Regions from separate parts of the Homo sapiens genome. Here region 1 is linked to region 2. A link means that fine-mapping ties the variant in region 2 to the expression of a gene that starts in the linked region. Tissue or cell type: lung. Region 2 holds a variant in brackets; the other region holds the start of a gene. All regions are shown on one strand. Distances are between the middles of the regions. Region 1 holds the start of CMBL (carboxymethylenebutenolidase homolog). Region 2 overlaps MARCHF6 (membrane associated ring-CH-type finger 6).

Region 1 (2,913 bases), 80 kb after region 2:
GCATCTCCCAAAGGCCCCGCCTCCAAATACCACCATGGGCGGGGTGGTTAGGATTTCAACGTACAAATTTTGGAGGGGACACAAACATTCAGTCCATAACAACACCTTTGCAGTGGGGATGGCAGGAAGTGCGGCCACCACGGTGCAATGGCTTTTTAATGTGCCCATTTGTCCAGGCTGAGCTATATTCCTAGAATTCCCTTTTCCTGTATGTTTCCAGTTTGAGTGAGCCACAGGGGTGTGCTTCTGCAGCCAAGTTGAAGCTGTTGTCATAACCTTGGGCAGATGACCAGAGAAAATACGAAGGAGGCAAGTATGAAACGTGTATTAATTTCTTTTTTAAAAAAAGGCTTAATTTGGGGCTGGGGCCGGGTGCGGCGGCTCACGCCTGTAATCTCGGCAGTTTGGGAGGCCGAAGCAGGTGGAACACTTGAGGTCAGGAGTTCGAGACCAGCCTGGCCAACACGGTAAAACTCCGTCTCTATTGAAAACACAAAAATTAGCTGGGCGTGGTGGCGCGTGCCTATAATCCCAGCTACTGGGGAAGCTGAGGCAGGAGAATCACTTGAATCCGGGAGGTGGAGGTTGCAGTGAGGTTGAGGTTGAGATCGTGCCACTGCACTCCAGCCTCGGCAACAGGGTTAGACTCCATCTCAAAAAAAAAAAAAAAAAAAAAAAAAATTGTGGCTGGGCATGGTGGCTCACACCTGTAATCCCAGCACTTTGGGAGGCTGAAGGGGAGGATCACTTGAAGCCAGGAGTTCGAGGCTCCAGTGATCTATGATTGTGTCACTGCACTCCAGCCTGGGTGACAGAATAAGACCCTATCTCTAAAATAAAATAAAATAAAATAAAATAAAATAAAATAAAATAAACAAAAAATAGCTTAATTTGTATTTACAACAGAAGTTACTTGTCTTGGAAGCCAGGCACGCACGTAAATCTCACAGAAGGCTGGCTGTCTTCCTTCTCCTGGCCTCCCTGCCTCCTCCCTCAAGGCTGCCTGATTCTCTTCTCCCTTCCTCTCTGCGGTTCCCTCCCTCCCACCCCCTCTCCCTGCACCTTTCTTTATCTTGGAGCCTCTCCCATCTCTCCCTCCCTCTTCCTCCCTACCCCACCCTCCGACCACCCCACTTCTTCCCCTCCCCTCACACTTCCCTCCCTCCCTTCTCTCGTCTCCTCCCCACTGCGCCTCCCTCCCTCCTGGCCTTCCTTCCCTTCCCCGACTTTGCAGATTTCTCTTCCCCCAGGCCTCCCTCCTCCACCTCTCCGCCCCCTCCGGGCTTGGCTCTCCCAGGAGGCTACGACTGGAGCCACTGGTCCCGCAGGATCCCCGCGTCCTCGGTCGCCGCGTCCACGTCCCTCTCGCGTCCCCGCCCGGCGCCACGCCGCCTCCTCTGGGTTCGGCCTCCGCGCGGTGCAGCGCAGTCTCAGGCCGCGGGACAAGGTACGTGCGCGTCCCCGGGGCACACAAGCCCACACAAGCCCGGGCCCCGCTCCTCTGAACTCCCGCGTGTGTTCTGACTATGGCAAAGAAGGTCTTTGCCGCGTGCACGGGTAAGGAACTTCCCATAGTCCGTTTTCAGAAGCTGACTTTCATAAAAGTGATACGTTGTCCTTGCAGAACAGCAGCCTCCACGATCCCATGCGTCCGAAGCAGCCGCTGTTTACATTTTGGTATTTTCCTGTAGGTGTTTCGCCATGCATTTTAAAGACATAGTGGAAATCACACCGTATGCAAACTTGCGTTCGTTTTGGCCATTTAGCACGGAGGAGCCTTTCCACCATGCCGTTAAATACTCCTTGTAACTCTCTTCCTGCAGTGAGACATTCTGGTTGTAGCGTTTTTACTAATATAAAACTATTAAAAAACTGAGCATATTTGCAACTAAATCAGCATCCACATTCGACAGCTTTTCTTTAGGGTGGGTATTAAGAAGAGAGGTGCTGGGTCTATGGATCTAAGAGTGGGACATCCTAAATGCTGGGTAGGTGTGCCAGGAACGACTGGACAGTTTACACCCCACAGCCATGTGGGTCGGGCAGGCCTTGGAAACACTGGGCACTGAGATTTATGTCCACTTGCTGATGGAAGATGCCACCTGTTGTTTTCAAAGCCCATTTAAAATAAAGTGGTTAGTAATGAGCCTCGCCGGTATCCGGGGAATCCTGTCCAGGCCTGGGAACCCTATCCAGGCCTAGGAACAGCCAGAGAAAAAGCAGATTCTGCAGGGGCGTCGTTGGCATGTCTAAGAGGGCCATTGTGGGCTCATCCAGGTAGCTTCCTAATTCATGCTATCTCGACCATAGACACTTGGAAAATACAAGCATGGCTGCTGAAAAATAAATATTTGGAGAAGTTTGATGTTTGTAGAATCATCTAAGGATAAGTACTGGCCCTGCCTTCCCTGCTGCAAGATTGAAAATCACTTGCCATGCAAGTTCCTACAATGTTTAAGCAGTAAAGGAGAAACCTCCTGCCTTTCCCATTAGACCCCACTTTCCTGTGTTGTCTTGGGGTCCTCTGTAACCCTGAGCCCTGGATGCACTTCCACGTGGTTTCTATTTCTAAATTTCTAAAGCTTCCAGAAATGTATTCCTCCCTTCTCTCCTCTCCTCCCCGCTGCGCCTCCCTCCCTCCTGGCCTTCCCTTCCCCTACTTTGCAGACCTCTCTTCCCCCAGACCTCCCTCCTCCTCCTCTCTGCCCCCTCCGGGCTCAGGCTCTCCCAGGAGGCTGGAGATGTATTCCTAGACTTCCCTGCTTGTTATAATCCCAACTGCACCAGTCCCTTTTGCTTGTCAAAATCTGTTTTCTCTATTTCTGTTGGAGAACTGCGTTGTGCCTGGAAGTCTGACTTGTGAGTTATTTGAATCCTTAGGGCGTGAAATCAGGAAAACCACACCCTCACCAT
Region 2 (2,913 bases):
AGAAGATAAGAGGCCACAAAGAGAAGAACCAAGGCATCTCAGACAAACCATCTTAGATCATTAAGTCCCAGTAAAACAGCTGAGTGACCTAGGCAAGCCCAATAGATGAAAAGCTCAGCTGAGCCCAGCCCAAACTGCTGACCCCAGAATTATAAGCAAATAAAATGGTAGCTGTTTTAAGCCACTAAGGTTTGGGACAGTTTGTTTTGCAGCAATAGATAACTGATACAGTGCACCTAGACATGACCTCAATTACTGAGCTACAGAATACATAGAAACTGGTAAGACATTAAGGAAATTTAAAGTAAAATTTCACAGAAAAAAAATTCTATAGAGAGTGTAAAACATTACTCAGAAAAAAAGTAGTTTGGTCACAACTGCTATCAGAAAAACTGGCTCAATTTTTCAAACTGTAAAAGACAGCTAAAACCAAGCCATGTTTATAATTTATTTTGACTAGCCCCACTAGGCTTCCAGTGGTCCTCTGGAGTCAATGAGTAGTCTAATGAAAGCAATTCAGGTGACCCTCAAGCCTATCAGGTGAGAGGGAAAAAGAAGCCTGCCAATATAAGGCAAGCAACAATGCTTAATATCAAGATATAGTAAAGTAACTACAGGCAAGTTCTTAGCATTTATATTCTAATAATCATGGAAAACATTTAAAAAATAAATTTGAGTTCAAATGTGTATGTTAAAAACACATGTTAAAACGAACTCTTGGGCAAGCACAGTGACTCATGCCTGTAACCCCAGCACTTTGAGAGGCCGAGGCAGGCAGATTACTTGAGGTTAGGAGTTTGAGACGAGCCTGGCTAACATGGTGAAACCCCATCTCTACTAAAAATACAAAATATTAGCCTGGCTTGCTGCCACATGCTTGTAATCCCAGCTATTCAGGAGGCTGAAGTAGGAGACCCAGAAGGCAGAAGTTGCAGTGAGCAGAGATCACACCACTGCACCCTACCCCAGGTAATAGAGCGAGGCTCCATTTAAAAAAACAAAACAAAAAAACTTTTGTGAACATAAGACAGTAGTATGTATCTCAAACTGCGTGACAGCCTATTTAAAAAGTCATCCCGGACGGGCGCGGTGGCTCACGCCTGTAATCCCAGCACTTTGGGAGCCCGAAGCGGGTGGATCACCTGAGGTCAGGAGTTCGAGACCAGAGTGACCAACATGGTGAAACCCTGTCTCTACTAAAAATACAAAAATTAGCCAGGCATGCTGGCGAGTGCCTGTAATCCCAGCTACTCTGGAGGCTGAGGCAAGAGAATC[G/A]CTTGAACTCAGGAGGCGGAGGTTGCAGTGAGCCGAGATCGCACCATTATACTCCAGCCTGGACAACAGAACAAGACTCCATCTCAAAAAAAAAAAAAAGAAAGAAAGAAAAGTCATCCCATCATTACAAAACAGTCCCATAAAACAGGTATGTTTTAAAAGAAGTGTCATTTACATTTATCAGCTACTTCTACTGCAGCTATAACTGTTAGTGTAATAGACATAAATTATTGTTCTCAAAACAAAAGAATTTACAAATTATAATAAAATAAATATGCAAGGAAAAAAGCAAGCATCATCTACATCATGCAACATTCGTCACAGAGGTTCAATACTCACGTTGACAGCATATCTAATGGCAGCGTCAGTAGTGAGCTCACGGAGCCAGTAAACAAGCACTTGTAGATGCGGCCTACCGAAAAAGAGCATGATGGCACACAGTCACAACTCGCATCATGAATTCACATAGCTGCTCAAGAAAGCAGAGGTAAAGTGGAACGCCACAAATGCCACTGAAATAAACATTTAGTCTTTACAAGCCTAAGTCTCAAAATATTAAATTTTTAAAAACACAGTCAAGCACAAATATAGTGACAATGAAGAGTAAATGTTACACAATCATGTTTAGCACTTAGATTCTCTCTAGGTTTAGTTGCTTTTTTTTATTGAATGAGCTTAGATGTTTGAAAAGAAAAATCTAAAGTAAAGATCTCCAAAATTATAATATAAAGAATTTTTTAAATTCTAGAATTCCAAAATTCATTAAGTCTGCTCATGACAATAAAAGGTTTCAGTTTTGGAGGTATAAGTCTTTGAAATTAAGAGAATTTTTCAGTAGAGTATGTACTGCAATGCCATAAATGGCAACCTGACAACCAATATTTTAAAAGCACAGATTCACAGGTCCTCTAAAATACAGAATATAATTATTCTAAATTCTGGCCATTTAGAGAAAGACAAAGTATGGGTGAACGAACTGCTATCAAGGCAGAAAGTCTTTTAGTCAGGAAAGCAGAATTCTAGACAGAATGAGATAACAGACCACAGATTTGAAAATGGGGCACAAGAATAAAAACCTGAGGCTTTCTTTCAAACCAGTATTTGTGTATTAGCTTAAGCATTCCCTATATAGCCTTGTATCGGAGACTTCCAATCAGATTTTCAGTGACTTCAATGGCTGTTTTCAAAACCAAGTCAAAATGGAAAGGTAGGAAAAGATTTTCTGTAATAAAAATTACTTACATGTTTATAAAATACTCAGACAAGTATGCTTGTAACAATGTAAAACTGACAAACCAAATGTTTAGATAGGTAAATGGATTCATGTGCAACAGGCCTTCTTACTACAGAGTGCTGTGTATCGCTAAAAAAAAAAAAATAAGACAGCACAACACTCACGTACATGGAAAGACCACCAGGATACGATGCTAAGCTAGAGAAAAGTTACAGAATATGTATCGTGTGATGTAATTTAAATTGTGTGTATCTGTATATAAACAAATTAGAACAGAAATCAAGCTTGTGATTAATAACTGTTAAATCTTGTAAGTCCTTACTTTTGCCTATTTCATCTACTGATTTCAAAGAGGCATGTTAAGTCTTTCACTATGACTGTGAATGCTTTACATATTTCAAGGC

Evidence for each region. PIP is the estimated chance that this variant, and not a neighbour inherited with it, causes the effect.
Region 1: it holds the start of CMBL, and the variant in region 2 is the best candidate, but not a certain one, in a credible set for the expression of CMBL in lung (TOPMed, PIP 0.60).

What each region holds. Positions count from the first base shown.
Region 1 is chr5:10,306,159-10,309,071 of GRCh38, reverse strand. CMBL (carboxymethylenebutenolidase homolog) reads left to right here and starts at 1,170. Exons shown (of 6, transcript NM_138809.4): 1 at 1,170-1,447. RefSeq lists an enhancer at 1,392-1,892.
Region 2 is chr5:10,385,768-10,388,680 of GRCh38, reverse strand. MARCHF6 (membrane associated ring-CH-type finger 6) reads right to left here. Exons shown (of 26, transcript NM_005885.4): 5 at 1,615-1,687. Among named protein-coding and RNA genes, the nearest start is that of MIR10397, 15 kb to the left of the region's middle. The variant G/A (reference allele first, on the strand shown) is at 1,276.